6 linked regions of the Homo sapiens genome follow. The protein of the gene in region 1 interacts with the protein of each later gene in a biochemical or structural test. Each region holds a gene or a part of one and is shown on either strand. Other genes may lie near its edges.

The links.
Region 2: the proteins of DIAPH1 (region 1) and RHOC form a complex in vitro, tested with the Homo sapiens proteins (one study listed by IntAct).
Region 3: the proteins of DIAPH1 (region 1) and RHOA form a complex in vitro, tested with the Homo sapiens proteins (2 studies listed by BioGRID and IntAct, with this or other methods).
Region 4: the proteins of DIAPH1 (region 1) and NEDD4 form a complex in vitro, tested with the Homo sapiens proteins (one study listed by BioGRID).
Region 5: the proteins of DIAPH1 (region 1) and PRPF40A form a complex in vitro, tested with the Homo sapiens proteins (one study listed by BioGRID).
Region 6: the proteins of DIAPH1 (region 1) and APBB1 form a complex in vitro, tested with the Homo sapiens proteins (one study listed by BioGRID).

What each region holds. Positions count from the first base shown.
Region 1 is NC_000005.10:141,611,601-141,616,764, reverse strand, and holds part of DIAPH1 (protein diaphanous homolog 1), read left to right. Parts: intron 1-5,164. UniProt on the Homo sapiens protein: Actin nucleation and elongation factor required for the assembly of F-actin structures, such as actin cables and stress fibers. Binds to the barbed end of the actin filament and slows down actin polymerization and depolymerization.
Region 2 is NC_000001.11:112,700,631-112,704,127, reverse strand, and holds the end of RHOC (rho-related GTP-binding protein RhoC precursor), read left to right. Parts: intron 1-321; 5' UTR 322-328; coding exon 329-484; intron 485-1,008; coding exon 1,009-1,129; intron 1,130-1,434; coding exon 1,435-1,565; intron 1,566-2,414; coding exon 2,415-2,588; 3' UTR 2,589-2,997; downstream 2,998-3,497. UniProt on the Homo sapiens protein: Regulates a signal transduction pathway linking plasma membrane receptors to the assembly of focal adhesions and actin stress fibers.
Region 3 is NC_000003.12:49,376,837-49,382,000, reverse strand, and holds part of RHOA (transforming protein RhoA isoform 1 precursor), read left to right. Parts: intron 1-5,164. UniProt on the Homo sapiens protein: Small GTPase which cycles between an active GTP-bound and an inactive GDP-bound state.
Region 4 is NC_000015.10:55,982,914-55,988,077, reverse strand, and holds part of NEDD4 (E3 ubiquitin-protein ligase NEDD4), read left to right. Parts: intron 1-5,164. UniProt on the Homo sapiens protein: E3 ubiquitin-protein ligase which accepts ubiquitin from an E2 ubiquitin-conjugating enzyme in the form of a thioester and then directly transfers the ubiquitin to targeted substrates. Specifically ubiquitinates 'Lys-63' in target proteins.
Region 5 is NC_000002.12:152,657,687-152,662,850, reverse strand, and holds part of PRPF40A (pre-mRNA-processing factor 40 homolog A), read left to right. Parts: intron 1-152; coding exon 153-248; intron 249-3,494; coding exon 3,495-3,581; intron 3,582-3,661; coding exon 3,662-3,758; intron 3,759-3,841; coding exon 3,842-3,903; intron 3,904-4,830; coding exon 4,831-4,962; intron 4,963-5,164.
Region 6 is NC_000011.10:6,405,179-6,410,252, reverse strand, and holds part of APBB1 (amyloid beta precursor protein binding family B member 1), read left to right. Parts: intron 1-4,589; exon of another isoform or gene 4,590-5,074. UniProt on the Homo sapiens protein: Transcription coregulator that can have both coactivator and corepressor functions. Adapter protein that forms a transcriptionally active complex with the gamma-secretase-derived amyloid precursor protein (APP) intracellular domain.

The sequences.
Region 1 (5,164 bases):
CTAAATAGCTCAGGTAATGAGGAAAATTGCATTAGTAGCTACGGAATTGGAAGGTTTCTAGGAAAGTAGTGCTGCTTAACCCTTTTATTGCCAAATGTAACCTATCTCAAGGCATCAGAATATTCTTTCTTCCTCTTGCTCCTTTTATGAGAACTCTGTGGAAATGAGAGATGAGGAGGAGCATTGCAATCCACTTCTCTTTGTGTCTGTGTATGTATACGTGGGTGGGTGGAGTGGGCGAGATTGCTGGTGTGCTTTTGATACCCGTGGCTTAGTTTTCTTGAACTATAGGCTAAAACTGAACTCAAAGGTCTTTCGCCGCCTCCACCTTTTCTAGAGTATGTGTCCTCTGGAACTCCATTAAGAATGTACTGTATAAAACTGCACTGGTTTGGACTAAGTGTGCCCGAAGGTTGTTTGCATTTGAGGGTTTATAATTCCTTTAGCTGCTACATACCTTTCCTGGCTTATGCAGGTTCTAAATACGGATTAACTGGTGAGAACACAGAGCTCACAAATTGTCTGAGATCTGCTCTTACCCTCTGAGGCATCTTGTGTGGAAAGGAGATGGACCCTCAGTTTAAAAGTGGTTGGGCATCATCTTTTAAAAACACATGATTGTTAGACGTGCTGACAGTGAGTGGCTGAAGCCAGGCTGCCTGGTATTACCCCTTGGTTCTTCATGAGTCTGTCTTCTCCTGGGCCATGAGCATACCCCTTCTCCGGCATTATTCCATTTCCTTTCACAAGTCCTTAAGATGAAGGAAAATAAAAATTTTAGGTGAACAGAGGGTTTTCTGACTTTTCAGCAGTGATCAATGTGGGTGTCAAATAGACTGATTTCCAAAATATACGTAAGGGGAATAAGTAGAACCGGGATGTTAGGAGGCTGCAGAGTATTCTTACATTTAATAGACTTTGTATGCACTCTCATATAATCGAGAAAGTGATGCATTGTAAGAGAGAATATTGCTTCCTGATTTAACTAGGAGCATTAGCGAGAATTTTTTTTTTCTTTTTTTGAGATGGAGTCTCGCTCTGTTGCCCAGGCTGGAGTGCAGTGGTGCAATCTCAGCTCACTGCAAGCTCCGCCTCCCGGGTTCATGCCATTCTTCTGCCTCAGCCTCCCCAGTAGCTGGGACTACAGGCACCTGCCACCACGCCTGGCTAATTTTTTTTGTATTTTTAGTAGAGACGGGGTTTCACCGTGTTAGCCAGGATGTTGTCGATCTCCTGACCTCGTGATCTGCCCACCTCGGCCTCCCAAAGTGCTGGGATTACAGGCGTGAGCCACCGCGTGCGGCCCTTTTTTTTTTTTTTTTTTTTTCTTTTTCTGAGACGAGTCTTGCTGTGTCCAAGGCTGCAGTGCAGTGGCGCGATCTCGGCTCACTGCAACCTCCACCTCCCGGGTTCAAGCGATTCTCCTGCCTCAGCCTTCCAAGCAGCTGGGATTACAGGTGTACGCCGCCACACCCAGCTAATTTTTGTATTTTTAGTAGAGACTGGTTTCACCATGTTGGCCAGGCTGGTCTTAAATTCCTGACCTCGTGATCCGCCAGCCTCAGCCTCCCGAAGTGCTGGGATTACAGGCGTGAGCCACCTCGTCCGGCCAAGAGAATGATTTTTACTATTATTAAAATTATTAAAATTAGTTTAATTTTGGATTCCTATATTGAGTTATGATCATGTTGCAGTTACACGGTCTTCTAAATGCAAAGTAATAGAGTATAAATGTTTAGTAGTAGACTCCTGTCCAAAAGGAGACAAATTAAAGGATGCCAGGCAGAAAGAAGTGGAGTTGTTCGTGCAGATTTCTGCTTATATCCTCTTAAAACATTAACTTTAATCCAAAAGTTTGCAGAAAACTGAAAAATATACAGAGAGCTTTGCAAAAGTTTGCAGAAAACTGAAAAATATACAGAGCGCTTTGTACACCTTTTTTTTTTTTTAACAGATGATGAACGCAAGGATTATATAGTTTGGAAAGAGGGAGGGGAGCCTACAGGAACGTTAGTGAGATGTTTGAGATGACAGAATGGTAGCTTAAAGATTTCCGCCATTCTTCCTGCCTTGTCTTAAGGACAGATCATGAGTCTACTTGGTATGGTTACCTGTACTTTTTCAAAGAAAATTCTCCCTCACAGGAGGTGAAAGTGAGGGAATGCCTTAGAATTAAAATCTCTGCCTTGGGAGAGTTGGTAAATTTTTTTAAAAAGCTGAAAATTTTATGACCCGTAAATTATGTTTATTATGAAAGCTAAGAAAATAGTGAGACATGATTTAATTTTGTTGATGGGTGCACGGGTCAGAATAATTTTATTTCCTGTGTCTTAGAATCACCTTTTGTTATTCCCCAAGGCCCTTGGTATTTTATAAATGTATTGCCAGGCTATTCTCAGGGAGTGTTATATATCTTCCATGAAATGTAATAGAGATTTAAAAGATAAGTTGTATGTCACATATGATTTAGAAGAACAGGTTAAAATAATTTTTATTGATAAATACTAGATGTTATAGAGAAGCAAAGAGTTTGTATATGCAGGTTTATATATCCCTTTTTATGTCCCAGTAGCTGAAATTATTTATGGCTACAAAAATCATCCCCATTTTGAAACAAACTTTGTATTACTTAAGTGGTTTTCTTTTTTCATTGAGCCTCCTTTTCTCAATTACCTTTGTTTGAAAGCAGTAGGCAAAAAATTCATTTTATGCTACCAGCAAAGCATTGGATGTTTGCCCCTCCTTGGGGTTAGGTGAGACAAAGCCACACTCTCCCCTTGCCTGGCTGCCTGTCACCTCCTCCCTGTGTTTTTATTCCTTTCCTACTTACGTGGGGGCTGATTTGAGCGCTATGAATAGCCAGGCCTTTGGGGAATTAGGGGCAGTCAGAAGCTGTTGATAATAAAATTTCTTAAAACTTTTAAGCTAAAATTGAAAAGTAAAGAATAATTACTATGAACATATTTTACTGTATTTCTCCTTTTTTTTAACACGTTTCTTAGGATCAAGAAACCCTTTTTAAGGAAGTAAAAGAATTACTGAAGGAAAAGAGAAATAGACTAATATTTTAATGAATTTTACCACTGATTACAAGATAACTCTCATTGTTCTTTCAACTTTGAAATTCTTACTTCCATCCATTATTAAATCTTACTGTGAATGGTACCCTTAAAACTTCAGAGTTGGAAGGGACTTTAAATGTCATCAAGTCCAAACACCCACTCAGTGCAACAGTCACTTCTGCAGTTGTAGGTTGGAAACATCAGGGGGCTAAGAGGTGGAAATTGGATGAACAAGTGGAGGAAGAGGAGCAGAAATTTTGGATTCTACATTTTCTTTACTAAATTTTAGGATCTTGGGAATGGCTGGAGTAGTAGAAAGAGATTATATAAAAGGAACAGATATACTAGAAGCTGTGAGATTGAAAGGAAAAAGATTGAAGAAATTGGCTCTCTATTGCTTGGCTCTGTAACAGTTAGGGAGAGTCAGTTTGCCCTTTAAATATTTGTTTAAATTTCTTTCCTCCAAGGCGGGGGATAGAACAGATAAGGGGATGCAAATGAGAGTTAGCATAATGGAATTGAATTAAAGGAAACATTCTCTTATGGAGGATGGGAAAATTCCATCCTTGGTGGTGGATATGACTGGTCCTTAGTAGCTATCTGGGAATTTTGTTAGGGTGGCAAATATAGGTAGAATTTATGGTGTCCTGTATAATTTTCTGGATTTCTGATTTTGTGACTTATTTCCTGTCTTGTGAGTAGTGTCATCTGAAGGCTTTGGATTTGTAATTTCTTTTAAGATTTAAAATACTGTAAGGACCCAAGACAGGATGATTTATAAACCATTTTTGATACTGAAGGTCACAGAAAACCAAAGAGCATACGTTGGTAGTTGGCCTTACATCTCAGATCTGTCTGTGTTTTATTTTCAGTGTCAGAACTTTAAGATCAAGTAGAAAAGATACCCTTCATCTCTATTTTTACAGCATTATTGATATATAATTAAAATACAATAAACTGCATATTTATTCATGAAACCATTTCTATAGTCAAGATAATGAATATAGCAGTCACCTTCAAGTTTCCTCCTTCTCTCTTTGTTATCCCTCCCTCTCACCCATCCTCGTCCTCCCATCTCCAGATTACCACTAATTTTCTTTCTGTAACTATAGATTAGTTTGTGTTTTCTAGAATTTTATATAAATGGAATCATACAGTATGAACCCTTTTGCTGGGGCTTCTTTTATTGTGATGTGTGGTCTTTCATATATCAATAGCTTAATCCTTTATATTGCTGAGTACTATTACATTGTATGGATTTACACAATTTGTTTATTCATTTACCCTATTGATGGACATTTGGGGTGTTCCCAGTTTTGGGAGTGCAGTTTTTGTCTGTGAACATTCTCATACAACTTTTTGGGCTGGACATATGTCTTCATTTCTCTTGGGTAAGTACCCATGAGTGGAATGACTGGGTCATTTGGTAGATCTATGCTTAATTGAGAAATTGCCAAACTGTTTTCAAACTGTTTTCCAAACTGTTTTCATTTTACATTCTTACCAGCAATGTGTAAAAGTTCCAATTTCCTGTCAACTGTTAGTATGATCAGTCTTAAATTTTAGCCATTCTAGTGGGTATGTGATGATATCTCAGTATGCTTTATTTATTTATTTATTTATTTATTATTTTTTGAGACAGAGTTTCACTCTCGTCGCTCAGGCTGGAGTACAGTGGCATAATCTCGGCTTACCGGAGCCTCTGCCTCCCAGGTTCAAGGGATTCTCCTGCCTCAGCCACCTGAGTAGCTGGGATTACAGGAGGCTGCCACCACACCCAGCTAATTTTTGTATTTTTAGTAGAGATGGGGTTTCATCATGTTGGCCAAGCTGGTCTTGAACTCCTAACTTCAGGTGATCCACCTGCCTGGGCCTCCCAAAGTGCTGGGATTACAGGCGTGAGCCACTGTGCCCAGCTGCAGTATGCTTTAATTTGTCATTCCCTAATGATGTTGAACATCTTTTCTTGTCCTTACTTGCTGTTTATATATCTTTCTTAAGAATCTGTTCAAGATTTTGCCCATTTGCTATCTATGTATCGTCCGTGAAGAATCTGCTCATGATTTTTCCTTCCTTCCTTCCTTTCTGTCTTTTGTCTTTCT
Region 2 (3,497 bases), on another chromosome or scaffold:
TGAGCAGCTCTCTAGCTACCTGGAGTCCCCAGGTTGGCAAGTGGATTAGATTGAAACTCATGTTTTCCAGCTCCCAAGTGGGGTCATCATCTACCTCCCACCACTGTATTCTAACCCATCGAGGGAGACCTGTCCCTGACCCAGAGATTAGGAATTTCAAGCTCTGTTGTCGCACAATTGGTGTTTTGCCAGAACATGCCTGAGCAAGCCCCCTGTCCCTTTGCTAGATGCCTCGGTTTCCAGGGAGGTTTGGGGGCCCTAGAGAAGTGTTTTTGGACTTAATGGCTTTTCCTCAAATCCCCAATACGTCTTTCCTGGCAGCCCCACCATGGCTGCAATCCGAAAGAAGCTGGTGATCGTTGGGGATGGTGCCTGTGGGAAGACCTGCCTCCTCATCGTCTTCAGCAAGGATCAGTTTCCGGAGGTCTACGTCCCTACTGTCTTTGAGAACTATATTGCGGACATTGAGGTGGACGGCAAGCAGGTGAAGGCAGAAATGCCCTTCCCACCCCACCCTGAGACCCCGCCCCCCAGTCACTGAATGACCTAGTATGTCCTTCCCCATTCCTACCCCTGTCTTTGCTTCATTCTCCCTGCTGGAACCAGTAAAAGTTAGGAAGTAAATCTGCAGTCTTAAAAAACCTGGATATACTTTCTGGTTCTCCCACAGACTGGCTCTGTAACCTGGGCCGAGTCCCTTTGCCTCTGGGTTTAAGCTCCCCCACCTGCAAAATGGGGATGATGGTAAGACCTCCCTCAAAGGGTTGTTGTGAGAATTAACCAAAATAATGGTGCTCACAGTGGCAACTCAAGGGTCAAACACGTCTTAGATTTCTTTAACAAACTGACCTAATTTATGTTGTGGGACAGTGATTAATATAATGCCTGGTGCATAGCAGGTGCTCAAATAAAGAAGTTCAGTGAGCCCGAAGGACAGTGGTTTCAGGGGACCTTTGGGTGGCAGGGTTGGGGCCCTCAGGCCAGCTACTCACTGGCCCTGTGTGTCAGGTGGAGCTGGCTCTGTGGGACACAGCAGGGCAGGAAGACTATGATCGACTGCGGCCTCTCTCCTACCCGGACACTGATGTCATCCTCATGTGCTTCTCCATCGACAGCCCTGACAGCCTGGGTGAGGGGATTGGAGGGAGGGGACTGAGAACCCCTTGGAATCAGCCAGAGGTCTCGTGCCTTGGCCTGTCTTCAGTCATCTTCAGAGGTGGGGGTGGGGATGCAGGGGAGCACTCAGGCCCTGTTGGTCTCCTTTACTGTGGTAACTGGCCCTCTGAGGGCATACTACTGTTGAGGTTTTGAGCTGTGAAAGGGACCATCATGCTGAATGGCTTCTAAGACTGCTCTGGGAAGATGAGGGCCCCCCCAGGGGAGCTTTCTAGCTTAAGTGGAGGCACCGACACCTGTTGGTGCATGTCTACACAGAAAACATTCCTGAGAAGTGGACCCCAGAGGTGAAGCACTTCTGCCCCAACGTGCCCATCATCCTGGTGGGGAATAAGAAGGACCTGAGGCAAGACGAGCACACCAGGAGAGAGCTGGCCAAGATGAAGCAGGTGGGTACGGCTGCCAGGCTGGAGCCCCTGGGGAAGAATGCACCCTCTGAGGGGTTGCAGACGGGCAAAGGGAACTTCTCTCCAGCTACTGCCGTGTGTTAGGGGAAACAGTAATATCTCCTGGTGAGGGAGGACCCATAGGGTTGTGTCTGATGAGGTATCAGAATGAAGTGACTTGTCCAAAGTCACTTGGCATTTTTATTTATTCCAGTTAATTGTCCATTCCGTTCAGAATTGGGACTATTAAGATGATTAAGAAAATCTGCCCTCGGGGAGACAGCTTATGTTTCACTTGGGATACCCAGGCTGTGCCATCAGAGTGCCCCTGGGGGAGGTGTAGGGATGTGGATGCGGGAATGAGGGCAGGCATTGTGTAAGTGGCTGGAAGAAGGGATGTGAGAGCTGGCTTATTCAGGGACCTGTAAGTGGCTCTCTAGCCAGAGGACTAGAGTTTATTAGAGAAAGCTGTCAGGATAAGAAATGCAAAGATAATTATGGCAAAGTTTCAAACTGGGGAGATGTTAGGTCTGTGTGTTAGAAAAATAATTCTGACTGGAAGAGAGTGAGGATGGAGGCAGAGCAGTCAGGAGGTGGGAGACGCTCATTCAGGCAAGAGAACCAGGGGCTGTGTGTGGGAGGAGGTGGGGCTGCATGGGAATGGAGGGAGTAGACTGGAGGGATTTTTGGATCCCTGGCCACGAAGCTGCCCAGGGTAGCTGGGGCCTGGGCGCTTTCTGGGTCAGGGCTGGAGAAGGAGGCATTTGTTCCAGCTGCTACACTTATGGGTGAGGCAGGAGAGGTTCATGTAGTCAACAGCTTCCTTTGACCCCTCATCTTATGTCTTCTCAGGAGCCCGTTCGGTCTGAGGAAGGCCGGGACATGGCGAACCGGATCAGTGCCTTTGGCTACCTTGAGTGCTCAGCCAAGACCAAGGAGGGAGTGCGGGAGGTGTTTGAGATGGCCACTCGGGCTGGCCTCCAGGTCCGCAAGAACAAGCGTCGGAGGGGCTGTCCCATTCTCTGAGATCCCCAAGGCCTTTCCTACATGCCCCCTCCCTTCACAGGGGTACAGAAATTATCCCCCTACAACCCCAGCCTCCTGAGGGCTCCATGCTGAAGGCTCCCATTTTCAGTTCCCTCCTGCCCAGGACTGCATTGTTTTCTAGCCCCGAGGTGGTGGCACGGGCCCTCCCTCCCAGCGCTCTGGGAGCCACGCCTATGCCCTGCCCTTCCTCAGGGCCCCTGGGGATCTTGCCCCCTTTGACCTTCCCCAAAGGATGGTCACACACCAGCACTTTATACACTTCTGGCTCACAGGAAAGTGTCTGCAGTAGGGGACCCAGAGTCCCAGGCCCCTGGAGTTGTTTTCGGCAGGGGCCTTGTCTCTCACTGCATTTGGTCAGGGGGGCATGAATAAAGGCTACAGGCTCCAACGTGTGTGGCAGCTTTCGGTCTTTCCCTCTGGGTGCTTGGTGTCCCATCTCTTTTCATGTCCAAGTTGCTTGCCAGCCTGGCCCCCTGTCTACAAAGCAGGCCAGTGGCCAGCAGGGTGGAGTCTTAGAGCAAAGGATGAGGTCATGCCTGGCTCTGGGCCAAGGAGGCGGGTGAAGGGAGTGGTCTGTAGCAGGGGGCTAAACTTAGAAACCTGTGGGTGGCTTCCCTGCCACCTCCCACTGGGTTTCCTCCCCCGAGTGTGGGGGCTGGGTTCCTCTCCAGCTGGGAGGGGATGTGACCCTCAGCAGGGCTGAAAGTCCCACCCTTCCCTACAGGGTCAGCTTAGGGGCTCAGGAAGCTGGGGCCAGGCAGAGGAGACATTATCAAGGCTTTTGCATAGAACAAGATTTTGTTTTCAGAGTTTTCTTCCTTCCCCTTCCCCCAATTGTTAGCAGCTTGATGTGTCATTCTCCCCAGCAGGGGAGGGGGTGGAATGGCT
Region 3 (5,164 bases), on another chromosome or scaffold:
TTTGCCCAAGCTGGTCTCAAACTCTGGACTCTAGCTGTCTTCCCACCTCAGCCTCCTGAGTAGATGGGATTACAGGCATGAGTTGCCACACTTGACTCTAACTGGGGAACTTCACTCTCTGTCTTTTTTTTTTTTGAGACGAATTTTCGCTCTTGTTGCCTAAACTGGAGTGCAGTGGCACGATCTCAGCTCACTGCAACTTCCTCCTCCCGGGTTCAAGTGATTCTCCTGCCTCAGCCTCCTGAGTAGCTGAGATTACAGGTGCGGACCACCATGCCCGGCTAATTTTTCTATTTTTAGTAGAGATGGGGTTTCACCATGTTGGTCAGGCTGGTCTCGAACTCCTGACATCGTGATCCACAGGCCTCGGCCTCCCAAAGTGCTGGGATTACAGGCGTGAGCCACCATGCCAATCCTTTTTTTTTTTTGACAGAGTCTCACTGTGTTGCCCAGGCTGGAGTGCAGTGGCGCGTTCTCAGCTCACTGCAACCTCCGCCTGCCTAATTCAAGTGATTCTCATGCCTCAGCATCCTGAGTAGCCTTTCAGGGGTTACAGGTGCCTGCCACCAACCCAGCTAACTTTTTTTTTTTTTTTGAGACGGGGTTTTTCTCTTGTTTCCCAGGCTGGAATGCAATGGCGAGATATCGGCTTACTGCAGCCTCTGCCTCCTGAGTTCAGGAGATTCTCCTGCCTCAGCCTCTCGAGTAGCCGGGATTATGGGTACATGCCACTACGTCCAACTTATTTTTATATTTTTTGTAGAGACGGGGTTTCACAATGTTGGCCAGGCTGGTCTTGAACTCTGGACCTCAAGTGATCCGCCTACCTCAGCCTCCCAAAGTGCTGGCATTACAGGCATGAGCCATTACTCCTAGCCTTGACTGCATGCTCTTGTTTGAAGATATGCATTGAGCACATTTCCCTATCATCGATATGCTTCTTATTGTGCTTTCATGATTAGTAGTATCTTCAATTTACTCCCTTTTTGCAAAAAAAAAAAAAGTTACTAGATTTTGTAGATTTGGATAAAATTCTATAATATCTGTATCTATATATATACACACACACGTATTCACTGCTGTATGTAATATTGTCCTGAGAATTCACAAATGAGTAATGGCAGCACTGTCAGCCCTCTGAGTTTTTTTGTTTTGTTTTCATTGTTTATTTTTGTCGTTGTTTGCCCTCTGAGTTTTCTTCTGGTACCCCTGTGGATTGTCTTATCCATTCTGGTTGGGGAACATACCCTTTAGACAATATAGTTTTGATAATGAGTATTTATTATTATTATTATTATTATTATTATTATTATTATTATTATTATTTTTGAGACAAGAGTCTCTGTCACCCAGGCTGGAGTGCAGTGGCATGATCTTGGCTCACTGCAACCTCCACCTCCCAGGTTCAAGCGATTCTCTTGCCTCACCCCACCACGCCTGGGTAATTTTAATATTTTTAATAGAGATGGGGTTTCATATGTTGGCCAGGCTGGTCTCAAACTCCTGACCTCGTGATCTGCCCGCCTCGGCCTCCCAGTGTGCTGGGATTACAGGCGTGAATCACCATGCCCAGCTGAGTGTATATAATTTAGGATTAGTTTGACTATAGGTAACAGAGACTTGAAAAATACCACCTTAAATAAGACAGTCATTTATTTCTCATTCATATGGAAGAAACATGGAAGGTAGGCAGTCTTGGGGCTGAGATGGTGGCTCCCAAGATCACCTGAGATCCAGGCTCCTTTTTACCTTTTGGTTCTTCCAGCCCCACGGTATGGCATTCATTCTCACATACCAGGATGGCTGCTTAGAAACCAGCCCTTACTTTAGATTTAAGCAGCAGGAAAGGAGGAGGATAATAAAGACTTCCCTTTAAGAAAGACTTTCTGGAAGTCCCACAACATACTGCTGATTCTCACATCTCATGGTACATGGCCATGTCTCCAAGGGAAGCTAGGAAGTGTAGTCTACAACAAAGTACATAGCTAAAAATCGAAGTATGGTCTAGGAGGGAAGGGCGGGAATTGGGATGGTTGACCATCACTGTCTGCCAGATGGAAGGAATCTGCAGATTTCTCTCTTTTTTCCCCCCACTGGGGGCGAGAGTGGTGGTAACAGCTTTATTGAAATATAATCCACATATCTTACAATTCACCTTTTTAAAGTGTGAATTATATATACTGTGGGCTGGGTGCGGTGGCTCACGCCTGTAATCCCAACACACTGGGAGAGACAGGCAGGAGGATCGCTTGACCTCAGGAGTTTGAGAGCAGCTGGGGCAACGTGGTGAAACCCGGTCACTACTAAAAATACAAAAAATTAGCCGGGTGTGGTGGCATGCACCTTTAGTTCCAGCTACTTGGGAGACTGAGATTGGAGGTTCACTTGAGCCTGGGGAGGCTAAGGTTGCAGTGAGTGGAGATCGCACCACTATACTCCAGCCTGGGCAACAGAGTGAGACCCTGTCTCAAAATAAATAAAATGTGTGAATTATATATACTATAATCAATAGTTTATAGTATATTCATAGAGTTGTGCAGCCATCACCACAATAATTTTGGAAAAATCTTTTTACCTGAGAAACTCCAGTATTCCATTAGTCATTTTCCATTTCTCTCCACCCCCAAGTCCCTGCCCTAGGCAACTACCAGTCTATTTTCTCTTTCTGAATTTGTTTATTCTGGACAATTTTATATAAATGGAATCATGCATGTTGGTTTTTGTGACTGGGTTCTTTCACTTATATAACATTTCCAAGATCTATCCATACTATAGCATATATCAGTACTTTATCCTTTATCGCTGAATAATATTCCATTCCATTGTATGGATATATTATATTCATCAGTTGTTGGATATTTGGGTTCTTTACATTTTTTGACAATATATTATGAATAATCCTGCTATGAATATTCATGTAGAGGTACAAGTTGTTATGTGGACATATGTTTTTGTTTCTCTTAGATATATACCTAGGAATAGAATTGCAGGGTCATACCTACTCACATCCTTTGCTCATTTTTTAATTGGATTAGATTATTTGTCTTTTTATTATTGAATTGTAAGAGTTCTTTATTTTTTAATTTTTTCTATATACTGTATTTAGGCCTGGGGAGGTGGCTTATGCTTGTAATCCCAGCACTTTGGGAGGCTGAATCGGGAGGATTGCATGAGCCCAGGAGTTTGAGACCAGCCTGGGTAATATAGTGAAACGCTATCTGTATAAAAATTAGTCAGCTGTGGTGGCAGGAGCCTGGTAGTCCCAGCTACTGGAGAGGTTGAGGTGGGAGGATCGCTTGAGTTGAGCCTGGGAGGCAGAGGCTGCAGTGAGCCAATATTGCACCACTGCATTCCAGCCTTGGTGACAGAATGAGACCCTTTCTGAAAATAACTACATAATAGAGAAACACATAGATAGGTTAGATAGGTACATAGATTGGATAGATGCGTAGATAGATGGGCAGTGGCTCACGCCTGTAATCCCTCAGCACTGTGGGAGGCCGAGGCGAGTAGATCACTTGAGCTCAGGAGTTGGAGACCAGCCTGGGAAACATGGCAAAACCCTGTCTCTGCCAAAAATACAAAAATTAGCTGGGCGTGGTGGCGCATGCCTGTGGTCCCAGCTGCTGGGGAATTTGAAGTGGGAGGATCACTTGAGCCTCGGAGGTGGAGATTGCATTGAGCCAAGATCACGCCACTGCATTCCAGCCTGGGTGACAGAGTGAGACCTCATCTCAAAAAAAAAAAAAAAAAAAAAAAAGATAGATGGATAGATAAATAGCGTACTTCATGTCAGAAGGAGTTCTCTCTTTTTTTTTTTTTTTTTTTTTAAGACACAGTTTCACTCTGTTGCCCAGGCTGGAGTGCTCTGTTGCCCAGGCTGGAGTGCAGTGGTACAATCTGGGCTCACTGCAACTTCTGCCTCCTGGGTTCAAGCGATTCTCCTGCCTCAGTCTCCCGAGTAACTGGGATTACAGGTGCCCACCACCACACCCGGCTAAGTTTTGAATTTTTTGTAGAAACGGGGTTTTGCTGGGTTGGTCAGGCTGGTCTCGAACTCCTGACCTCAAGTGTTCTGCTTGCCTCAGCCTCCCAAAGTGCTGGGATTACAGGTGTGAGCTACCGTGCCCAGCCCAAAAAGAGTTCTTTATGATTTCAACCTTGCAAGAGATCCTGAGCCAGACCACCAACCTAAGCTGCTTTTTTGTAGTTGAGTCATAAGAGTTTGAGACAAGGTTCCACTCTGTCACCCAGGCTGGAGTGCAGTGATGCAATCATAGCTCACCACATCCTCCACCTCCTGGGCTCAAGCAATCCTCCCACCTCAGCCTCCTTGGTAGCTGGGACTACAGGTGCATGCTACCACAACTGGCTGATTTTTTTTTTTTTCTTTTCCTTCTTTTTTTAGAGACAGTGTCTCACTGGGGTTCCCCAGGCTGGAGTGTAGTGATGCAATCTCAGCTCACTGCAGCTTCCACCTCCAGGGCTCAGGGGATTATCCCACCTGAGCCTCCCAAGTAACTGTGATTAGCATGCACCACCGCTCCTGGCTAATTTTTTGTATTTTTAGTAGAGACAGGGTTTCACTATGTTTCCCAGGCTCGTCTTGAACTCCTGGACTCTCAAGCAGTCCACCTGTTTCGGCCTCCCAGATTGCTGGGATTATAGGCGTGAGCCACTGCGCCCGGCCCTTTTCTTTCTCCCCTCCCCTCTCATGCTTCCGTCCGTCCTTCCTTTCTCAGTGTCTCACTATGTTGTCAGGGCTGGTCTCTTAACTCCTGGGCCTGAGCATTCCTCCTGCTTCAGTCTCCCAAAGTGTTGGGATTACAGACATGAACCACTGTGCTCGGCCTCAATTGATTTTTCTTTTTTGAGACGGAGTTTCGCTCTTGTTGCCCAGGCTGGAGTGCAATGGCATGATCTCGGCTCACCACAACCTCTGCCTCCCGGGTTCAAGCGATTCTCCTGCCTCTTGCTCCTGTGTAGCTAGGATTATAGGCATGTGCCACCACGCCTGGCTAATTTTGTATTTTTGGTAGAGATGGGGTTTCTCCATGTTGGCCAGGCTGGTCTCAAACTCCTGACCTCAGGTGATCTGCCTGCCTCGGCCTCCCAAAATGCTGGGATTATAGGCGTGAGCCACCGCGCCCAGCCAAGAATGCTG
Region 4 (5,164 bases), on another chromosome or scaffold:
TTTGGGTTGGTTCCAAGTCTTTGCTATTGTGAATAGTGCCGCAATAAACATACGTGTGCAATGACTTTCTTCACAGAATTGGAAAAAACTACTTTAAAGTTCATATGGAACCAAAAAAGAGCCCGCATCGCCAAGTCAATCCTAAGCCAAAAGAACAAAGCTGGAGGCATCACACTACCTGACTTCAAACTATACTACAAGGCTACAGTAACCAAAACAGCATGGTACTGGTACCAAAACAGAGATATAGATCAATGGAACAGAACAGAGCCCTCAGAAATAATGCCACATATCTACAACTATCTGATCTTTGACAAACCTGAGAAAAACAAGCAATGGGGAAAGGATTCCCTATTTAATAAATGGTGCTGGGAAAACTGGCTAGCCATATGTAGAAAGCTGAAACTGGATCCCTTCCTTACACCTTATACAAAAATCAATTCAAGATGGATTAAAGATTTAAACGTTAGACCTAAAACCATAAAAACCCTAGAAGAAAACCTAGGCATTACCATTCAGGACATAGGCGTGGGCAAGGACTTCATGTCCAAAACACCAAAAGCAATGGCAACAAAAGCCAAAATTGACAAATGGGATCTAATTAAACTAAAGAGCTTCTGCACAGCAAAAGAAACTACCATCAGAGTGAACAGGCAACCTACAACATGGGAGAAAATTTTCGCAACCTACTCATCTGACAAAGGGCTAATATCCAGAATCTACAATGAACTCAAACAAATTTACAAGAAAAAAACAAACAACCCCATCAAAAAGTGGGCGAAGGACATGAACAGACACTTCTCAAAAGAAGACATTTATGCAGCCAAAAAACACATGAAGAAATGCTCATCATCACTGGCCATCAGAGAAATGCAAATCAAAACCACTATGAGATATCATCTCACACCAGTTAGAATGGCAATCATTAAAAAGTCAGGAAACAACAGGTGCTGGAGAGGATGTGGAGAAATAGGAACACTTTTACACTGTTGGTGGGACTGTAAACTAGTTCAACCATTGTGGAAGTCAGTGTGGCGATTCCTCAGGGATCTAGAACTAGAAATACCATTTGACCCAGCCATCCCATTACTGGGTATATACCCAAAGGACTATAAATCATGCTGCTATAAAGACACATGCACAGTTTTTCTTATCCTAGACAGTTTTAAGAAGGACAGGCCTTGGCCGGGCGCGGTGGCTCACGCCTGTAATCCCAGCACTTTGGGAGGCCGAGACGGGTGGATCACGAGGTCGGGAGATTGAGACTATCCTGGCTAACATGGTGAAACCCCATCTCCACTAAAAATACAAAAAAAAAAAATTAGCCGGGTGTGGTGGTGGGTGCCTGTAGTCCCAGCTACTCGGGAGGCTGAGGCCGGAGAATGGCGTGAACCTGGGAGGCAGAGCTTGCAATGAGTCAAGATCATGCCACTGCACTCCAGCCTCGGCGACGGAGCGAGACTCCGTCTCACAAAAAAAAAAAAAAAAAAAAAAAAAGCAAGGACAGGCCTTACATCCTACGATGTTTCTCATTTTGGGTCTGTTTGGGTCTGTTTAGTGTTTCTTGATGACCATGTTCAGGTCACGCTCTCTTGGCAGGAATCATAGAAATGATGCTGTGTTCTTCGCATGCATCACACCAGGGGACACATGATGCTGACTTGTCCCAACACTGTCAGTGACCTTAATCACTTGGTCACCTTGGTGTCTGCCAGGTTTCTTCTCTGTAATGTCACCTTTTTTCTCTTTATAATTGATAGTATTTTCAGGGGACATATCGTAAGATTATGCCAATATCCTATTTCTCGTCAAGTCTTCATCCTCAGTTTTAGCATCCATTGATGAATTCTATCTGAACCAAACACCACTATTTTGTTTTATTTCCATCTCTGTTAGTTGGCATTCTATGTAAGAAGAGCTTTCCTTTTCCTGTCATTTATTTATATCAGCATAGACTTGTAAAATCCCACTTTATTCAGCAGGTTGTAATCAGTTACTGTCATTAAATATTTTATTGCTCATACTGTCCCAGTTTGTCCAGTGGGAGCCCTTTCAAGGAGGTTCCTAGGTCTTCGTAACAAGTCCCCATCATTCTTTGAACACTTTCTGGCAGAAGTTGTTCCAGGCTTCTCTTGTATTTTGCTTGGCTCAGCTATCTACAATCAGCCATTTTCCCTAGAAGCACTGGTCCTATTTAGTATAAAATGGTTTTTACATGCTACAATTTGGGTACTTGGTGTGCTCATTGTTACTGGGATATACTCTTGGACCATCTCTGAACAGTTAAGCGTGTGTGTGTGTGTGTGTGTGTGTGTGTATGTGTACTCTACACACATATATAAGTATACACAAAGATCTATAGCTATTTCTATATCAATCTGTAAATACATAAATTTAAAAATCATGAATTCATACTGATTTTTTCCAATTCAAACCTAATACCTGAGTTCCTTTATAGCCATAAGTACCTTTTCTAACAGTGAAAAAATTTGACTTTTATTATCCTTAATATATTTGTTCATTGACTTATGTGTTCAGTGTAACTAACTTCCTGACCACGCAGACATCTCCTCTGCCACTTCAGCTCTTCACATCCTTGGATGCCAGTGGGAATATTGCTATTCTCTATGCAGCATCCCTGTGCAACGCCGTCCTCCCCTCCTCAGTACCCTTGCCAGTGGGCACCCTTCTGATGCATCTCTGTATGGTATCTCCCTCCTCCCCTCAGTGCCCCGTGCTGGCGAGCATGCCAACCATGCACCTCTGTGAAATTCACCCTCACTCCACAGACATTTTCTGTAGTGGCCTGTGATTGACTGCTCTGCGCCAGGAACAGAAAAGGAGAAGGAACTATAATTTCTTTTATAGGTAATTAGGAATTCATATATCACATAGGAGTAGAATCTTTGAGCTGGAAGAGACCTTGTAAATAAATCATTTAGGGTGAGCAGGGGTATAGAAAATGGGATTCTTTTGTGTTGGAATTCTGGCCCTGTCACTTACTTGGTGAATCTTGCATAATTAAACATCAGTCAGAGCAGGATATTTAAGTCTGCTGATTCTCCCATCCCCTTGCTGTCTCAGAAATATTCTATAGCATTTGGAGACATGCAGGAACCAGTTGAACACAATTGCTTCTCAATCTATCATGGTTATCTACTCCAGAGCTGAATCTTTAAGTCAGATAGCTGATTTGAATTGCTGAACCCATTGTTCTGCTGAATTCTGTGGCAATTGATGTTACTTCTTCTTTAGGACTTCTATTTCTTCTGGCCTCCTTGCCAATAGTATCAAAGTTTAAGAGGATAAATGAATGGGGAGGGGATAGGAGAAGTCTGGAGATAAATGCAGGGAGAAAGGCACAGCACAAACAAAAAGCATTTTGATAAGGCTTTTCTGAAAGTTGAGTAAATATGTCTGTAGCCCATTATTATAACTCATGGCTGGACTCAAATGTCTGGCTTCAACTGATGCGAGACATGTTGGGGCAATGAAGAGAGTAATATGAACAAACAATCATGGCCGTCAATAAAGATGCTTTAGTGAAAGTATTCTCCTTTGGGAAAAAGAGTCAACCTAAATAAATAGCAACTGCCTTTAACTGAATACCCACTCTGTGCCAGGCACCAGGTTAGATTTTTTCATACTTTAGCTGTAATCATCACAACATTATTGCAGAAGTAGGAAGTATTACCCCCATTTTAGAGATAAGGAATATGAGATTCTGATTTGTTCAAGAACCTTCTCCCAGTAGGGAGAAGTGTTATATTCATAACAAACACTTGGTCCTTCCACTTTCCTGCTACTAATACGCAAATAAAATAATTTAACAGAAGAGACTTTTTCTCAGGAATATGATGAATGTGAATGGAATGTGTGCAAAATTAACTTGTAATTGTTATGCTCTCATTTCCACATCTTCTGTCTTTTCTTGATAAAGCTTTTAGGTGGACCTCTGAAGTACTTGATTTCTGTATTTGCTTAACAAATATTTGATGAACACTATGTATCAGGCACGTGGGTCAGGGCATGAGGTATAATGATATAGAATATACTTTACCGATTTTATAGCCAAGAGGGAGAGAGAAACATTAAATAAATTATCACACATCAATATTTTATAAGTGTTATTAAGGAAAACAGTGTAAGATGAAAGTATTTATAACAGGCTGGGCGCAGTGGCTCACACCTGTAATCCCAGCACTTTCGGAGGCTGAGATGGGTGGATCACTTGAGGTCAGGAGTTCGAGACCAGCCTGGCCAACATGGTGAAACCCTGTCTCTACCAAAAATACAAAAATTAGCCAGGCATGGTAGCATATACCTGTAGTCTCAGGTACTTGAGAGGCTGAGGCAGGAAAATTGTTTGAATCGGGAGGTGGGGGTTGCAGTGAACCGAGACTGCGCCACTGCACTCCAGTCTGGGCAACAGAAGAACACTCTGTCTCAAAAAAAAAAAAAAAAGTATATCTAAAAATTAATTAATTTTATATGGTGTGGAGAAGGGAGAAAATATCAAGGAAATTGAAACTAAGGATGAATAGGAGTTAGCAGGTGAAGAGTGGGGCAATAGAACCCCATTGAGTAAATAGAACCACATGTGCAAAAGATGGGATGGAGACGAACAGGAAGGTTGGAGTGCTAAAACAAGAGGCACAACGTCAGCAGATGAGGCTGGAGAGGATAGCCTGATCAGGCAAGCCTGGCATGCCGTGTTAAGGATTTGGAATTGTATACCAAGTAGCATGGAAATCAAATGCACGCACGCGCGCGCACGCACACACACACACACCATTGTCGTCATCATCAACATTATTTTTCATAGTTAATATTTGTTCCTCATATGCTTAACATTTGTTTGCTAGTTATTTCTTTATTTCTTCTTGCTTCTTCACCTTTCCATCTAGGATCACTTTTTCTGCCTAAAATATATCACCTAGAATTTTTTTTTTTAAGAGATGGAGTTTCACTCTTGTTGCCCAGGCTGAAGTGCAATGGCGCAATCTCGGTTCACTGCAACCTCTGCCTTCTGGGTTCAAGTGATTCTCCTCCCTCAGCCTCCCGAGTAGCTGGGATTACAGGCGCCAGTCACCATGCCTTGCTAATTTTTGTATTTTTAGTAGAGACGGGGTTTCACCATGTTGGCCAGGCTGGTCTCGAACTC
Region 5 (5,164 bases), on another chromosome or scaffold:
TAAAGAATGGTTTGGACTTTTGAAGGGAGGAAATAATGGACTTTAAGGGGACTGATTCATCACAGTTTTCACTTGCTGTTATGATTTATTTTAGATGTATCGTTGTACTTTTCTTGGTATTCATATATTTATTTTGTATCTGAATTTTTCAGATCCGTGAGAGATTTGTAAAAGAGCCAGCATTTGAGGACATAACTCTAGAATCTGAAAGAAAACGAATATTTAAAGATTTTATGCATGTGCTTGAGGTAATTTTAGAATTCTCATATACAAAATATATAAAATATAAACAAATTGAAGAACTTAGAATGATGAAAGTATGTTGCTTAATATTCACTGCTTTTATACAAATGTACTTACCTGGATGGTTAGAGAATGGTTTTTTTCCTATAAAAACTGCTTTTAAGTAAAAGAAACTATTAAGTTTCCATGGGAATATAAAGATTTGTATGTGAAGACTGTTTTGTATTTTTAGAAAGTTTTAGAAATTGAGCAGTTTGGCAGCCACATGGATTGATTGACTAATAAAGAAAACTTGAAATTTTTCTTGTAAAGCAGATAGAAGACAGCTTTTAGGCACATTTGAGGTATTATACCACATTAGCTGTGTAGAAAAGAAAGTTTCTGGAAAGTAATGGAATAAATGGTAAGTTTTTGTTAAAATAAGCAATGAAACAATAACATCTCAGGTCACTTTAATAGGTAAGGTTCACTGGGCACGGTGGCTCACGCCTGTAAAACAAGCACTTTGGGAGGCCAAGGTGTGTGCTGATCACCTGAGGTCAGGAGTTTGAAACCAGCCTGGCCAACATGGCGAAATCCTGTCTCTACTAAAAATACAAAAAAATTATCAGGGAGTGGTGGCGGGCACCTGTAATCCCAGCCACTCAGGAGGCTGAGGCAAGAGAATTGCTTGAACCCAGGAGGCGGAGGTTGCAGTGAGCCAAGATCATGCCACTGCACTCCAGCCTGGGCAACAGAGCGGGACTCCTTCCCCAAAAAAAAAAAAAAAAAAAAAGTATTTTGATGACAGTTTCAGTTAGGCCCTTGTAAGTATGCTGAATTGACCAATAATTATTGAATAATAGTATTCGATGCCTATGTGGGCCAGTGTTCTAATTGCTTTATGTATATTATATTTATGAACTGAATCCTTTCAATAAGCCTGTGAAGTTAATAGGTGAACAAACTAAGGCAGAGAGAAGTAAAGTGACTTACAGGGTTGGAAGCCGGGCATGTTGACCTTGGTCAGTGCTTTTAACAAGTATGCCATGCTGTCAGTTTTAGAGTAGCTAATACTTTATAAGCTAAAAACTAGTAGGTGCTTAATATTACAGTGTTGCATTGTAAATGGGCATAGGTCACTAAATTGACTATTTCCTATTTCTTGATTTATTGTTCTTGATTAATATAATGTTAACCACAGTTTTTTCTGTACCATGTACTCACGAAGGCCCTGTATTGTTTCACAGCTGCCTCTAGATGTGGTCCTGTTGGCCTTTTTTTTTTTTTTTTTAAAGCGGGGTCTCTGTCATCCATCCACTCCTAGGCCAGAGTGCAGCGGTGCAGTTATGGGTCACTGCAACCTTGAACTGTTGGATTCAAACAATCCTCCTAAGTAGCTGGAACTGCAGGCACGTGCCATCACACTTGGCTTTTTGTGGGGCTTTTTTGGTTTTTGTTTTTATAAAGATGGGATCTTGCTGTGTTGGGCAAGCTGACCTCAAGCAAGTCTCCTGCCTTGGCCTCCTGAAGTACTGTGATTATAGGTGTGAGCAACCATGCTGGGCCTCTAGATCTTTTCTGTGCCAAATGTAGTGCATACCAGAAGCATCTGCATTACCTAGGAGCTTCTTAGGAATGCAGAACCTTAGGCCCCATGGGGCAGAAATCCTGCGTCTGACTTCATTTTAACCAGATTCCCAAGCATTAAAATATACATTTAATTTTGAGAAGCTCTGCTCTAGATAGTGACTAACCTATTTTCCCCCAGTTCAAGAGTCTACAGATTCTTTCATGATCTATACTGGGGGTAAAGTAGTTAGGTGGTAAATGGAGTAAAAATGGTACCATAGGGAAGGGCTGAACACATTCAGATTTTGGGGCCTTAATAATCTGAGGCTTGAGGTATTAAAGAAAGGTAGGTTAGCATTCAGTGAGATCAAAAGGAGAATAGTCCATTCTGAGATCCAGATTTTCCATTTCCACTTCTGTAACTGAGGTAGAATTTATTCTCAAAGCCATAGAAATGTTTAGGGGCAAGGAGCTTGTACTGTAGCACCCCCCATCACTGCTAACCTAGTAATTGTTTTAATAAGTAGAAATCCACAAAGACAGCATATGGATGTCTAACAATGTCTTGTTTGAGGAGGAAGGAAATGGCTCCTTGGGGGAAATGAAAGAGGGGTAGCAGATTTTGCATTTATTCTGACATCAGCCTTATATATCTCAATTCAAGGATGGCTCTCAGGTTGTTCTTTATCTTAGTGCTTGGCCTAACTTGCTGACCAAAGCCAGATTGATTACAAAAACCATGTCTGAGTGTCATTGTATTTGACTGTCATTAAAAGCAGATGTCACTGCATATTACACTTTTCTTCTAAATCACACCATTCTCTTCCTTAAAAAATACTTTTTCAGGCTGGGCACAGTGGCTCACGCCTGTAATCCCAGCATTTGGGAGGCCGAGGTGGGCGGATCACAAGGTCAGGAGATCGAGACCATCCTGGCTAACATGGTGAAACCCCATCTCTACTAAAAATACAAAAAATTAGCCGGGCATGGTGGCAGGCGCCTGTAGTCCCAGCTACTCGGGAGGCTGAGGCAGGAGAATGGCGTGAACCCGGGAGGCGGAGCTTGCAGTGAGCTTAGATCACGCCACTGCACTCCAGCCTGGGTGACAGAGTGAGACTCCATCTCAAAAAAACAAACAAACAAAAACTTTTTCAGCTGGGTGCAGTGGCTCATGGCTGTAATCCCAGCACTTTGAGAGGCCAAGGCGGGTGGATCACCTGAGGTCAGGAGTTTGAGACCAGGCTGGCCAACACGGTGAAACCCTGCCTCTACCAAAAATGCAAAAATTAGCTGGGCGTGGTGGTGTGCACCTGTAATCCCAGCTACTTGGGAGGCTGAGGCAGGAGAATTGCTTGAACCTGGGAAGCGGAGGTTGCATTGAGCCAAAATCGCACCACTGCACTCCAACCAGGGTGACAGAGCGAGACTTCGTCTCAAAAAAAAACAAAAACAAAAAAAGCCCTACTTTTTCTACTAACAGTTTTTAACATTGTTTTGTTTAGATGTCTAAATGAGTGGGTATAGGATGGGCAAGAAGGAAAAGAAAAAAAAATTGACAATTCTTCACAGTTTCAAGGGATTACATTTCTATATATTGTAGAGTTTTACTCTAAGAACTTACTTCCGTAGCTTTTTAAAGATTCTTTACAGTCTGTCTACAGTAAGTGTAAATTCTTGAAATTTTTTTTTTGTCCCCGTAGCATGAATGTCAGCATCATCATTCAAAGAACAAGAAACATTCTAAGAAATCTAAAAAACATCATAGGAAACGTTCCCGCTCTCGATCGGTAAGGGAATTTATTATATGGTGTCATGAGTGTATTAAAGTGTTAGCATTATTATGAATGAAATTATTTGTGTTTTTTAGGGGTCAGATTCAGATGATGATGATAGCCATTCAAAGAAAAAAAGACAGCGATCAGAGTCTCGTTCTGCTTCAGAACATTCTTCTAGTGCAGAGTCTGGTGAGCATTTCTATTTATTTGATTAAATCATTGACACTGATATACTCAAAGTCTGACACTTTTTATCCTTTTGTGCTACTCAGAGAGAAGTTATAAAAAGTCAAAAAAGCATAAGAAGAAAAGTAAGAAGAGGAGACATAAATCTGTAAGCAAGCTTCTAATTTTTACGTTTCACCTAGGCTTTTGCCCTTAACTTCCTCAGAGATCATAGAACCTTTTTCTATCTAGTTCTCTGCAGCCCAGGACAGTTCAGGTGGGCACATAAACTTAGAGTTTTGTTGTTGCTCTTCACCTTAATCTTCCATTAAAATCAATTGTTGAGCTTTGAAAAAATACACACACCAGTGTTAGGATCCCCATCCTGGTCTTTAAAATTAATATTCTAGAAAGAGACTCGTGTGTGTGCATGTGTCTCTGTGTATGTATGTATGTTTGTGTGTATGTGTAGATTGCAGCTGTTGTTGAGAACCACAAGTTTAAATGTTAAAACAACCACTCTACTCTTGCAGTTCTTATTCTTAGGTGTACATTAAGATCCACCTAAGGAACTTTTTGAAAATCTGAAGGCCTGGGTATCACCACAGACCTGTTGAATTACATTCTTTTTATTTGAATTTGTGCATATCTAATGAATAACCATTTAAGCACTAACGTTAAATTTTAAATAATTCCTACTCAGCAATTTCAAGAAAATAATTTTATTAATACAGCTGTCTGCCTTATGTGTTAAAGCTAACAGCAGTATACTATGTACATATATAAACCAATATTATATTGAGTTGGTGAGAAATGTAGTATCTGTCTGTATTTACATAATAGATACTACACATCTATTATGTGGTAGTAAGTCTCATGAGTGGTATTTTATCCTTCAGAATATTATCCTTCCCAAGGGAAAGCTGTCCCCATGAATCTTGGGTAAATTTTACTAAATCCTTGAGGTTAACAATTCACATTTTATTTCATCTCTCTAAGAGCACATAACCTGTTACACATAGATGTTCTTAAATATTACCTATATAACAATGGTATCTTCATCAAAATGCTAACCTGTTATTTTCTATTCATACAGGACTCTCCAGAATCCGATGCTGAGCGAGAGAAGGATAAAAAAGAAAAAGATCGGGAAAGTGAAAAAGACAGAACTAGACAAAGATCAGAATCAAAACACAAATCGCCTAAGAAAAAGACTGGAAAGGATTCTGTAAGTATTTAGAATTGTTTCATGCCTGTATTTTCAAAATGCAAAAATGTATTCTGTGGTTAAACCATGATGGTGTTGAAAGAATAGGCTTTTTTCCAGGTGTGCTACCATTGAAGAAAACAGTGAAAATTCAGTTAAGTACATTTCACACAATATCATAGTTTTTGGTCATGCATGATCCTAGATTTTATTCTCCTAAATT
Region 6 (5,074 bases), on another chromosome or scaffold:
TTAGTAGCTTTCTCGAGACCACAGACAGGCTGAGATTACAATAGAGCTGAAATCTAAACCAGGTCTCAGTCCAGGCCTGAGCTCTTGGCCCCGTGTTATGCTGCCGCCAATGCATAGAGCACAATGCACTCAGGTGCACTTGGGACAGTCGGCCCCGTTTTTTTTTTTTTTGAGACAGAGTCTCACTCTGTCGCCAGTCTGCCCCGTTTTAACAGGTCACGCCTGTTGGGAGCAGCCAGCAGCTCCCCACAGAGGTCTGTTTGGAAAGACTGGGAATGTTGTGTGCTTATAATCCACATGCTCCAGCACCATTGCAAGGATACAGTTTTGTCAGGAGTAGGATATTGACTAAAAGTTAGAAAAGAAAACCCTTTGGGTAGGGGGAGGAGAATAGATACTAGGACTCCAGGGCTTAATCATTAAATATGTCCATTTAAATTAAGCTGAGTCTCCACATTTTCTAATGTCGTGTAGCGAATACAGGAAAAGCTGAGGAACAAAGAGTGGAGATAATGGGCTATAGTTACAACCAAAACCCTGGAGTTTTGTAGATGGAGGTCTAAGAAAGATTAGGAAAGACCCCTATCCTTACCAGGTGGCGGACACAATACCCATACCCCAAACTGTGCAATCTTTGTGGAGAACATGCAGTTCAGATGAGCCTAGGGCTGCACACCATCCCCTTTCGAAAAACTCATTCTGGACATTTTCAAACATACACAAAAATAGAGAGAAAAGAATAATGAGCCTGATTTACCCACGAGCCAGTTTTACCAATTATCAATACATAACTAATCTTGCTACCTGCATGCTCTCTTCCGTTCCTAGGCCCAGCGTAGGTTATTCTGAAGCAAATACTTTTATCTATAAATGTTTACAGCTGGGTGCAGTGGCTCACACCTGTAATCCCAGCATTTTAGAAGGCTAAAATGGGTAGATTGCTTGAGCCCAAGAGTTCAAGACCAGTCTGAGCAACATGGCAAAACCTCTCCTCTATAAAAAAGACAAAAAAATTAGCCGGGAGTGGAGGCATCAGCCACTGTGGTCTCAGCTACTCAGGTGACTGACCTGAGAGGATCATCCGAACCCAAGAAAGTCGAGACTACAGTGAGCCATGATTGAGCCACTGCATTCCAGCCTGGATGGCAGAGAGAGACCCTTTCTCAACAACAACAACAACAGTTTACTTTTGCATTTCTGAAAGATAAAACTCTTAAAAAAAAAACCCACCACAATATCATTATTGTACCTACAAAAATTTAATAATAATTCTTTAATATCATTAAATATCCTGCCAAAAAAAGGCTGGATTGAGCCTGGGCACAGTGGCTCACGCCTGTAATCCCAGCATTTTGAAAGGCTAAGGTGGGTGGATTGCTTGAGGCCAGGAGTTCAGAAACAGCCTGGTTAACATGGTGAAACCCTGTCTCTACAAAAAACACAAACATTGGCTGGGCATGGTGGCTTATGCCTGTAATCCCAGCACTTTGGGAGGCCGAGGCAGGTGGATCACGTGAGGTCAGGAGTTCGAGATCAGCCTGGCCAACATGGTGAAACCTTGTCTCTACTAAAAATACAAAATTAGCTGGGCGTGGTTACAAACGCCTGTAATCCCAGCTACTCGGGAGGTTGAGGCAGGAGAATCACTTGAACCCGGGAGACAGAGGTTGTGGTGAGCTGAGATAGAGCCATTGTACTCCAGCCTGGGCAATAAGAGCGAGACTCCTTCTCAAAAAAAAAAAAAAGAAGGAAAAAAAAAATGTAGAGACAGTGTCTCACCATGTTGCCCAGGCTGGTCTTGAACTCCTGTTCTCAAACAATCCTCCTACCTTGGCTTCCCAAAGCACTAGGCTTACAGGTGTGAGCAACCATGTCTGGCCTGATCTATCTGTTAAAGTTATGTTTGATCAAGTTCCCCTTCTATTTTTTTCGTTGTTGTTGTTTGCAGTTTTGCTTTTGTTTTTTAACTGGAGAATCATGTTGCTTGTCCTGAGTTTTCTATGGTTTGGATTTTTCAGACTCTCTCCTGTGGTCATATTTACCATGCTCCTCTTCCCCTGGATTTCCTGTAAATTGGTAGTTAGTTCTAGAGCCTTGATCAGATTCAGATTTGAGCATTTTTGTGTTTTGCTTTTGCAAGAATATTTCATAGGTGGTATTAAATACTTCTACTAGGCCGGGCGCGGTGGCTCACGCCTGTAATCCCAGCACTTTGGGAGGCCGAGGCGGGTGGATCATGAGGTCAGGAGATCGAGACCATACTGGCTAACAAGGTGAAACCCCGTCTCTACTAAAAATACAAAAAATTAGCCGGGCGCGGTGGCGGGCGCCTGTAGTCCCAGCTACTCGGGAGGCTGAGGCAGGAGAATGGCGTGAACCCGGGAAGCGGAGCTTGCAGTGAGCCGAGATTGCGCCACTGCAGTCCGCAGTCCGGCCCGGGCGACAGAGCGAGACTCCGTCTCAAAAAAAAAAAAAAAAATACTTCTACTAAAGGCAAAGTCTGATTGCCTCTCTTTTTTGTGATGTTAGTGGCCTTTGGTGGTCATTGTCTCAACTCCTTTTAAAAGGAACAGCCCCTCCTGCACTCCAGCTGATTATTTTTGGGATTGGGGTGAGGAAAAATATAGTCTCAATGCAGCCAGTTAAAGGGAAACTGAAAACTAGATATTGGTGTAAAATAGCCCAATTTCTAAACGTTAACAACAAATTCTATTTTTTAAAAAGCACTGTGCAGGCCACACACAATCTATCTGAGGCTTGCATCAGTCTGCAGGTTGTAGGTTGGAAGTTTGCAAGACTAGGGGGTGTGAGTCAGTGACCAAATAGAGGCCTAGTTGCTCACTTGCCCCTGGGATGGTCACTGTGGGGGCTGCAACTCTGAACTACCTATGAAGCTTCTAGGAGTAGGGGGATAGTACTGCTGAAGAGCTGGGGCGGGTTTGCTGGGCAGTGACCTCAGCAAGGATGTTGGAGTGGCAAGAGGATTCTCAAGGATCATGCACTGGTGGAGACATTGTGAATTGAGGATAGAGGTGGGGGCCAGCCCAGGAAAGGGGCCAAGTCACTCTTTTACAACTGTGTTGCTATGACCATGAGGGCTGCAGAGAAGGTTTGTGCTCCTGCAGAAATGAGGCTAGAATTGAGCAAAAATTATATTCTCCTTCCTATTGTAGGATATTCATAGAGCTATGGATTGAATGCATAAATGCATGAATTCATGAATTAAATGAATGATGAATGAATAAACTTTACTACCTGTATTGAATTCATACTCTGCTCCAGGCCTTATCGTAAATGCTGGAAATGTATACTATGGGGCAAAGATGTTCTTACCTCCTGGCCTTCACAGCCTGGTGAGGAGACAAAGAAAGAAACAAGTGGTTATGATCAGTGCGATGAGCTCTCTGGGGCTGGGGAAGTACAGGAGGGGCCCCTGACCCTGCCTGTGAGAGTGGTGGGGGAGAGGGCAATGGGTCAGTTTTAAGAAGGGACCTGTATACTGATGTCTGAAGGAGAGGTAGGTGATAGCCAGGTGAAAATCGAGAGTAAGGGAGGTGGGCTGGGAGAGGACAAGGGGGCATGTCCCAAGCAAAGAGAGAGAAGGGGAGTGGCTGGAGGTAAGGCTGAGAGGCAGACAGGGGTTCATGACAGCACATAAAACCTGGGGAGGAATTTGGACTTTATCCTGAGGGCAGTGACAAAACAATTAAGAGGATTCCGTTGGAAAATTACTTGATTAGTTTAGCATCTCAGAAGAATCATTTGGGCTGTACTGTGCAGCTGAGATTGGAGGAGACCAGATAGGAAGAGAAAGACCAGTTATGATGTTTTTGCAATGATGCAGGTTAAAAAAAAAAAAGCTAGTAGCCTGGGCTATGTTAGTTATGTGGGGTGGAGAGAAGGGGAAAGCTTTAAGTCAATCACTGATTCCTGAGCAAGTGAGTACACCTGGCTTCACCACTAAGGCATTTGTGGATGAACGAATGAAGGAAGGAAGGAATGATACGTGAACATTTAATGTATTTTATATGTAAGTGTCGCATGAATCGATGCAGGAGTGAAGGTGTGCGTTCTGGAATAAATGCATGTGTGTGAAAGCAAAGGCCGGGGTGGGCTGCGCTTGGAGGGAGATGTGCCAAGCTCCAGAAGGGCCTCCCAGATGGCCAAGGGGGGAGAAACTGCCCTTCCAGGACAGATCGGAAGGATGAAGCTCTTTGAAGCAGGAAGGTACAGGCTGACAGGGATGGCAGATGGATTGGTGTGTGTGACTCAGTCAGGAGATGGTGAACTGGTCCCCAGATTCCAGAAGTGTCCAGCCAGCCCTCATGAAGCAGGCTGTGGCTGTGGAGGGCATGGAGGCCCTAGGGTGCTGTTCCTGGAAGGTTTTAGCAGGAGAGTCCTGAGGCAATGGAGGGTCTCTAGGGAACAGCAGGTATTCCCTGAGCCTCAGCTAAGTTTCAGGTGCCTATTGAAAACCTTATTCCATAGAGTGTGAGTTAGGGGGAAGTGGGGGTGAGGAGAGGCGGTGATGGCTGCCTAGAAGGTGGATGGGCAAGAGCCCCTCCTCTTTGGGTGTCTGTGGGCCCACGTCATTTGGAAGCTGAGGATGGTGAAGCACCCTGCCTGAATAACTCTCGTCAGGTGTGCAGCCACCTTGGCGTAACCACGCCCACTCCCAGCCCTGCTGTGTCTGGTTGCCCAGCAGCAGGGTCTTGGGACTGCCTGTCCCTTAGTACTGCCTCTTGGACCAGTCAGGATTCCTGGTTTCCCTGGTAACGGGAAGCACGTCAGCAGTCTGGGCGCTCCCAGCCGGTCCTGGTGCTGCGGTTGCCGAGGAGACGCTGCAGCCTAGCTGGGCCCTGGCAGGTGAGGGGTGGGGGGTGGTGCTGGGAAGCCCCAAGCCCAGCCTCAAGCTTGCTGGGGCTCAGGACCTCAAAGCCCACCCTTGGGTTCAAACTGCTGTGCAGGTCCTGGACAGGGGCGGGATCCCTGAAGGCCTTGAAACCACACCCTATTTATGCTGACAGCTATAGGCTCTGCAGGGCCCCAGGCAGCTGGGGTATTCCTTAGGGGC